3 separate regions of the Homo sapiens genome follow, and all the other regions are linked to region 2. The links come from fine-mapping of genetic effects on gene expression. A gene starts in region 2. Each other region holds a variant in brackets. All regions are shown on one strand. Distances are from middle to middle. Region 1 overlaps LINC02732 (long intergenic non-protein coding RNA 2732). Region 2 holds the start of FDX1 (ferredoxin 1). Region 3 overlaps LINC02732 (long intergenic non-protein coding RNA 2732).

Region 1 (2,763 bases), 31 kb after region 2:
TCCCAGAAAGCCTGACACCCATGTCTTTAGTCCGGCAACCACGCTAGTCGCTTTTAACTGGCTGACAGGTGCCTGGTATTTAGCCCCCAAATTCTAAGGAAAAATAGGACAGAATAGCAAGTGAAAGAGGCCCAATGCTGCTTACTGCTTGGCGATAGTCCCTTCATGGTTGCCAAAATGTGTCTGGAATTGGTTCCTTCTGGTGGGTTCTTGGTCTTGCTGACTTCAAGAATGAAGCCTTGGACCCTCGTGGTGAGTGTTACAGTTCTTAAAGATGGTGTGTCTGGAGTTTGTTCCTTCTGATGTTCAGACGGAACATCTATCCCCCTACAGCTTGAAGGGGAAGGGTGCATTCTACTTCTAACCGCTGTTTGCAATTGGGTAAATAAAGTCATTAGTTGTTCATCTGTATGAAATCATAACTAAGCATTTTCAATTAACTGTGTGGAATAAACCACGTATGAAGAATGAGAAATCACATTAATAGGCATATCAAAAGCAGTCAATATCTTAATTACCACCACAAGCTCTGCTTTTTGAGCTGAAGTATCGGGCGTCTGGAAAACTTTACCTTTTGATCCAGAATAAGAAGCTTTACCATTACTAGACACATCTGTGAAACGATGAAAATGCTTAGCAGGCTGCAGGTTGTTTACTGCAGGAATTGTAAATGTAAACCATTCACAGTCTTGCTCAGCTAAAGGGATAGTAAAGAAACAGTCTTTTAAATCTATGACTATTAAAGACCAATTTTTTGGAATTATACCAGAAGAAGGCAATCCTGGCTGTAATGCTCCCATAGGTTGTATAACTGAATTGATGGCTCTTAAGTCAGTTAGCATTCTCCATTTACCTGATTTTTTCTTAATTATGAAAACTGGAGAATTCCAAGGAGAAAATGTTGGAATTATGTGCCCATTTTCTAATTGTTCATTAACAAATGTCTCTAAAGCCTCCAGTTTCTCTTTACTTAGCGGCCATTGTTCTAACCAAATTGGCTTATTGGCTAACCATTTTAAAAGTATAGGTTCTGGAGGCTTAACAATGGCTGCCATCAAAAATTATTTCCTAATCTTTGGCAGGAACTTGGTCTTTCCATTTGAAGTGGTTTTTTCAAAACTTGCAAATTTTTTTCTAGTCCCATACCAGGGACATGCCCCATTTCATGCATCATATGTTGACTTTGAGGGCTATATAATTGTTCTGGAATTAGAACTTGTGCTCCCCATTGTTGTAATAAATTTATTCCCC[C/A]AAAATTTATAGGTACAGAAGTTATAATTGGTTGAATAGTCCCAGATTGTCCATTGGGCCCTTCACAATGCAAAATATAACTACTTTAATATACTTCAGCAGCTTTATCAACTCCAAATATGTTAAATTGAGCAGGTTGAATTGGCCACGCGGACGGCCAGTGCTGTAGAGAAATGATTGACATGTCTGCTCCTGTATCTGTCAAACCTTTAAATTTCTTTCCTTGAATAGTTATTTCACAGGTAGGACATTTATCAGTAATTTGATTTACCCAATAAGCTGCTTTGCCTTGTTTATTTGTGCTTCCAAATCCTCCTGTTCATTTAGTTTCATTTTTTCCCATTCTCATATATGGCACAATCAGGAGCTGTGCTATGCACTCTCCTGGCTCTGCTTTCCAGGGAACAGAAGTAGATATAATAATTTGAATTTCCCCATTGTAATCTGAATCAATGACTCCTGTATGTATTTGTACCCCTTTTAAACCTAAACTAGACCTTCCTAAAAGTAATCCTATTGTCCCCGCTGGCAAGTGTCCACAGACTCCTGTTGGGACCTTTTGCAGGGGTTCCCCAGGTAGAAGGCTCACAGCTTTTGTGCAGCATAAATCTACTGTGGCACTACCGGCTGTGGCAGGGGACAGACATTGTACAGGGGTAAGGGAATGGCCTGAGCCGGAAATGCCCCGGTTTAGAACAGGGCCCAGGACGGACCCCTCATGGCATTTCCCGAAATCAGGGTCCCATCTTTGTCAAACTTAGAGTGACACTGATTAGCCCAATATTTCCCTTTTTTACATTTTGGACATATTTCAGGATCAGCAGTTTTCCTTTTTCCCCATCTGGCTGCCTGACTCACTGATTTTTTTCTACATTCTTTTTTAGTATGACCATGCTTCCCATAGTTAAAACAAGCTCCAGGAAATGGAGTATTTCCTTTATCCACTCTCAGTCCTGCCATTTCCTGTGCCAACAAAGTAGCTTTATGCAGATTACCTCTGATACCATCACAGGCCTTGATGTAATCAACTAAATGTGCTTTCCCTCTGACAGGTTGCAGAGCAGCCTGGCAATCGGCATTAGCATTGTCAAAAGCTAATAACTGCAACACTATAACCTGAGCAGCCGAATCTGCAATCATCTTTTTAAGAGACTCCTGTAACTGAGCTATAAAATCAACATATGGTTCTCTTGGTCCGTTTTATAGCACTAAAGGAAGGGTAATGTTCTCCACCTATAGTGATTTTTTCCCAAGCTCTAATGCACACTCCTCTAAGCTGTTCTATGGCATCATCCTGCATGACCAGTTGCGCATCTAAACCAGCCCAGCCGCCAACCCCCAAAAGTTGGTCTACAGTTACATTAATTTGATGTTGGGCCTGGGCATTGCAAGCAGCCTGAATGGAAGCTTCATCTGCCCACCAAGTTTTAAATTGTAAGAACTGACCAGGAGTTAGACAAGCTTGAGTAACAGCATCCCAGTCAGTAGGAATCATCCAACTGGAAACAGCAA
Region 2 (2,763 bases):
ATATTTAATACAAAACTCTCTTAACATTGTGAACCTAAGAAGCTGCTGCTGCTGCTGCTGCTGCTGCTGCTGCTGCTACCAAGTGGCATCTACTGAGCCCTCATTACGTGCTAGGCACAAGACTACCTGTATCGCTGTATTAACTCATTGATTCTTCAATTAACCATAGGAGGTCTACACTGTTATTATATCCAACTTGCAAATGGAGAAACTGGGTTCCTAAGGACTGACCAAGTTAGGCACGTCAGACAATCAGTGCCAAAGCCAAGTTTCAAGTCCCGGCAGATTACTTCAACGCAGGGGCTTTCAACACTTGAGCAACTAGCAAAGGGCCTACAGGGCAGCAGAGGGTATGGGCTGGGTGTATTCTACCTGGACACCCCCTGACAAAGACCTGGGACCTGGGTGTCCTCTCAAAGCAGGGCAAGGCCCTGAAAAAAACAGCTGGCAGGTGTGTCAGGCCAGGACAGCAGGAGGGAAGCCTGTCGCGAAGGTCACTGCCAGTTTCGGGCAGAGCAAAGGTCAGATCCCAGACAAATCACACGGAGAACAAGCAGCAGCAAAGTCCCGGCTTTCCTCAGGGCACGGGAAGCGCTGGGAAAGGGAGCTGGGCGTCCAGGGTCCCCGATTCCCGCCGGGAGTGGGTGATGCGGAAAGGAACTCTGCGGTGCGACGGAAGGGAGGCAGCGACGCCACCGAGCAGCGAGACGGAGCCGCGAGAGCACCCCAGAAGAGGGGGGCGAGAGGCAGGCCTCCGGGGTGTGGGCCCGGCGCGCAGAAGGCACTGGAACCAGAGACTCGGCCCAGAGAGCCAGGCGCCACCCACCGGGGACCCCGGCCCGCGCCGGCGATCGCGCCCGCACGGCGCCCTACCTGCTCCGGGCCCGCGCCGACACGCTCAGCGACCGGCTCGCCTCCGCGCTCCCGCCCGGCCCCCGGTTCCTCAGCAGGCCGCTGGATCCAGCGCGGGACCCAGCGTGGTGCAGCCACCGGCCGGCCGGGCCGCCGAGGACAGCAGAAGCGGCGCGCAGCAGCCGGGCGCCCCCAGCGGCAGCCATCGCCCGCGGTCGGGAACTGCCGGAAGCGACGCAGGCCGCGCTTTGAGGCCGCGAGAGACTCCAAAGAGGCGGGGGCGGCAGCTGCGGCGCAGACGCCCGAGGGCCGCGGCGAGGGGCGCGGGGCTGGAGTGGCGGAGAGACCCTGCTGGAAGCACCGCGCCGAGGTTCCGCGTGCCTTCCGGGTGACCTATAAAGACATTGGCAAGCAGAGCGCGGCCCCGCCCCGCCTCTCACGCCCACGCCGCCCGGTCCCATGGGGCGGGGCCAGCGCAGGGGGCCTTTACCAACCCTCCAGGTTCCGTTGTAAGCTGGATGCTTTTTTAGCGGCTGAAGTTGCCGTGCAGAAACAAAATATTTTGAAAGATAGCTGGACGTCTAGCGGAAATCGGTTAGCTAGACCACTGTGTTCTGTTCCGCATACCCCCATCCCCTAGCCGTTAAAAAAAAAACTGGGAAATTGTGTCATCTTGGAGTCAAGTTAGAGCAAAGTGAATTCTGCCCACTGTAAAACAAAAACAGTGGGAAATTTTGGAAAATCTCAGAATGCTATTATACAAAGAAATAATTATGACTATAAAATTGTAAATGAAATTAATGAATAGGCTTGGGGCTCCTGCAGAGGACAGGTAGCCATCCTAGACCTTGACTGGCAAGTAAATGCTGGCTGAGTACATGAAACCCACGAGACTGAACCGGAAACTTTGTGATGAGCTGAGATCTCTAAAAGACTTTCACAAAAAACAGAAAAGATGAACTTTAAAATACACCTTATCATGGTTCATATGTTGTGGGAAATGCATGGGCTTTAAGGTCAGAAATAGCAATGTTCAGATCCAAGATCTACTGCTTTAGAGATCTGAGACCTTGGAAAAATTATTCTCATGGAGGATCAGAGTTTCCATAACTCTCAAACACAGATAAGATGTTCCAGCCTTCAGGGCCATTCTGATGTTAATCTAATACGCAATGCACACCGTGCGTCACAAACCAGGAAGGCTACCGCTTCCTGGGCCTTCCTCCATCAGGGTACTCATAAAGAGGCTAAAGGCCAAAGTCAAGGGGATATTGCAGATATGCTAAACACAATCAGATACTTTTTTTTTCTTTTTTTGACATGGGGTCTCTCTATTCTGCCCAGGCTGTAGTGCAGTGGCGAAATCTCGGCTCACTGCAACCTCCGCCTCCCAGGTTCAAGTGATTCTCCTGCCTCAGCCTCCCGAGTAGCTAGGACTACAGGCGTGTGCCACCACACGCCACTAATTTTTGAAGATTCAGAACAAGAAAGTGTAAGCATGAGTAAAGTATCTGCGGACAATGTATGGTGCTTTCTGGAACCCAATGGCAGAGAGAAGGCAGTGGCTCCTAATTGCCTCAAATCGTTGGATGAAGAGAAAGTCTTTCAAGCTGCGAAGGGCACAGCAAACCCTGACAAGTAATCTTGAAGAGGAGGTTGTAAAAGAACAGCTAACTTTTGTTTTTAGTAAGACCAAACTTCCAAGGTCGGATGAATTAGTTGTAGGAAGAGAATTGAAAAGAAAAAAAATCGTAGATGTTCTGTCTTCTCTCAGCCCTCCTGTAGCAAATACAGTTTCAACTCCCTTAAGGCACTTGATAGCTTTCTGCTTTGTAGGGTAGTTATTCGTACACATAGAGTAGTTATTTATATAGTTCATCTTAGTGACTCCGACAGCACCAGCTACAGGGT
Region 3 (2,763 bases), 61 kb after region 2:
GTGCTGGGATTACAGGCATAAGCCACCATGCCCAACCTTTAATAATTATTTAATGTGTTTGGGAATTTGGAGGAAAAGGATTACCAAAAGTTTGCCAAATCTCCAGTATCCTTTGAACAGAAAAAAATAGTAATTGTATGTAGAAAACTAAGCAATTTGGCCAGTGATGAAGGGGATTAGCAATTACTAATGTCAGAAAAAGCAGAAGGTTATACAAGAAAGAAGATATGATGACAAGATCCTATTTGGTTCAGTGGTGAATAATATTTAATAGTGACAAAAATGTAAACACTGACTTTTGGCTTAACTAAGTTGTTTTTTTTTTTTTTTTTGAGATGGAGTCTCACTCTGTTGCCCAGGCTGGAGTGCAGTGGCACAATCTCGGCTCACTGCAACCTCCGCCTCCTGGGTTCAAGCAATTCTCCTGCCTCAGTCCCCTGGGTGGCTGGGACTACAGGTGCATGCCACCATGCCCAGCTAATTTTTGTATTTTTAGTAGAGACAGGGTTTCACCACGTTAGCCAGGATGGTCTTGATCTCCTGACCTCGTGATCCGCCCACCTCGGCCTCCCAAAGTGCTGGGATTACAGGCATGAGCCACTGCGCCTGGACAAGTAAGCAATTTATATAACTGTATTGGAAAAATGAAGAGAGGGAAATAGGAAGGGTTAGAGTTGGATAAGAAATCAAAGGCTTCAACAATTTCCTTCCTAGGATCATACTCTATACATATTTTTGACACATATGCAAAGATTTATGTACAAAGATTTATGTACAACAATTTATGTACAAAGATTTCCATCATTGAATAAGAAATAGCAAAAACAGAGATGACTTAAATATCTATGAATTGGAGACTCTAAAACAGATTATGTTTGAATGAAATACAGTTTTTGTGGGGTGTTTTTGAGATGGAGTCTCACTCTGTCGCCCAGTGCAGAGATGTGATCTCAGCTCACTGCAACCTCCGCCTCCAGAATTCAAGCAAATCTCCTGCCTCAGCCTCCCGAGTAGCTGGGATTATAGGCACGTGCCACCACACCTGGGTAATATTTGTATTTTTAGTAGAGACAGGGTTTCACCATGTTGGTCAGGCTGGTCTCGAACTCCTGACCTCAATTCATCCACCCGCCTCAGCCTCCGAAAGTGCTGGAATTACAGGTGTGAGCCACCGTACCCAGCCTATTTTAATTTTTTTTTTTTTTTTTTGAGACAAGGCATTGCTCTGTTGCCCAGGCTGGAGTGCAATGGCACAATCTCGGCTCACTGCAACCTCTGCCTCCTGGGTTCAAGCCATTCTCCTGCCTTAGCCTCCCAAGTAGCTGGGACTACAGGCGCAAGCCACCATGCCCAGCTAGTTTTTGTATTTTTAGTAGAGAAGGGGTTTCACCATGTAGGTCAGGGTGGTCTCAAACTCCTGACCTCAAGTGATCCACCTGCCTTGGCCTCCCAAAGTGCTGGGATTACAGACATAAGCCACCGC[G/A]CCCAGCCCGCATTTGTTTTAAAGCCATCCCCAATATATGCTGACGTGATCTCTGGATACTGAAAATAAAACAAGACAAAATACACAAACAGAAACAAAGTGGAGACTAATGGGTCCATATACTACCACCTGTGAGTATTTTAATGCATGTATCAATATACACATACACATTCACAAACATTGAGTCTTATGTATATACAGACTATCTGAAAAAATACACAAGAAACTGCCTGTAGCAATCGACTTTGTGGAGGGGAATTATGGTTAAGAGGGCAGAGATAGATAGGGAATTGATGTAGTTTGGATGTTTGCCCTCTCCAAACCTCATGTTGAATATGCTCCCCAGGGCCGGGCACGGTGGCTCACGTTTGTAATCCCAGCACTTTGGGAGGCCGAGGCGGGCGGATCACAAGGTCAGGAGTTTGAGACCAGCCTGACCAACATGGTAAAACTCTGTTTCTACTAAAAATACAAAAATCAGCTAGGCGAACTACGGGTGCCTGTAATCCCAGCTACTAGGGAGACTGAGGCAGGAGAATCACTTGAACCCAGGAAGCTGAGGTTGCAGTGAGCCCAGATCACGCCACTGCACTCAGCCTGGGCAACAGAGTGAGACTCTGTTGAAAGAAAGAAAGAGAGAGAGAGAGAGACAGAGACAGAGAGAGAGAGAGAGAACTCCCCACTGTTGGAGGTGGGACCTGGTGGGAGGTGTTTGGGTCATGGGGGCAGATCCCCCTTGCCATCCTCATGGTAATGAGGAAGTTCTTGCTCCGTTCACGCTCTGTTCATTCACATGAGAGCTGGTTGTTTAAAGGAGATTGGCACCTCCTCTCTCTATCTCTCTCTCCTGCTCTCTCTCTTGCCATGTAACATACCAGCTCCCTCTTTGCCTTCTTTCATGAGTGGAAGCTTCCTGAGGCCTCACGAGAAGCAGATGCCAGCACTATGCTTCATGTACAGCCTGAGAACCATGAACCAAATAAACCTCTGTTCTTTATAAATTACCCAGCCTTAGGTATTCTTGTATAGCAACACAAATGAAGTAATACAGGGACCTACTCTTCACTGTATATAATTTTGTCACTTAAAAATTTTATGCTAGTGAATATATTACTTATATAATAAATACATGAATATTCACTATTAATATTATTCATGAATAATATAGTAATTATTGATTCAAATGAATAATTTTTCAAACGAAGGATAAAAGCAACCTGTTAAAAGACGAAAAATTTTTAAAAACACAAAATTAGCCCCCTTAATAGCTTCATATATCA

Evidence for each region.
Region 1: its variant is fine-mapped to the expression of FDX1 in whole blood (INTERVAL, PIP 0.93).
Region 3: its variant is fine-mapped to the expression of FDX1 in lung (TOPMed, PIP 0.91).

What each region holds. Positions count from the first base shown.
Region 1 is chr11:110,397,369-110,400,131 of GRCh38, reverse strand. The region is part of intron 3 of LINC02732 (long intergenic non-protein coding RNA 2732); the gene reads right to left. Among named protein-coding and RNA genes, the nearest start is that of FDX1, 31 kb to the left of the region's middle. The variant C/A (reference allele first, on the strand shown) is at 1,252.
Region 2 is chr11:110,428,416-110,431,178 of GRCh38, reverse strand. FDX1 (ferredoxin 1) reads right to left here and starts at 1,231. Exons shown (of 4, transcript NM_004109.5): 1 at 874-1,231. The coding sequence starts at 1,058. RefSeq lists an enhancer at 418-697 and a silencer at 768-1,417.
Region 3 is chr11:110,367,816-110,370,578 of GRCh38, reverse strand. All of the region lies in intron 2 of LINC02732 (long intergenic non-protein coding RNA 2732), which reads right to left. Among named protein-coding and RNA genes, the nearest start is that of LINC02732, 14 kb to the right of the region's middle. The variant G/A (reference allele first, on the strand shown) is at 1,484.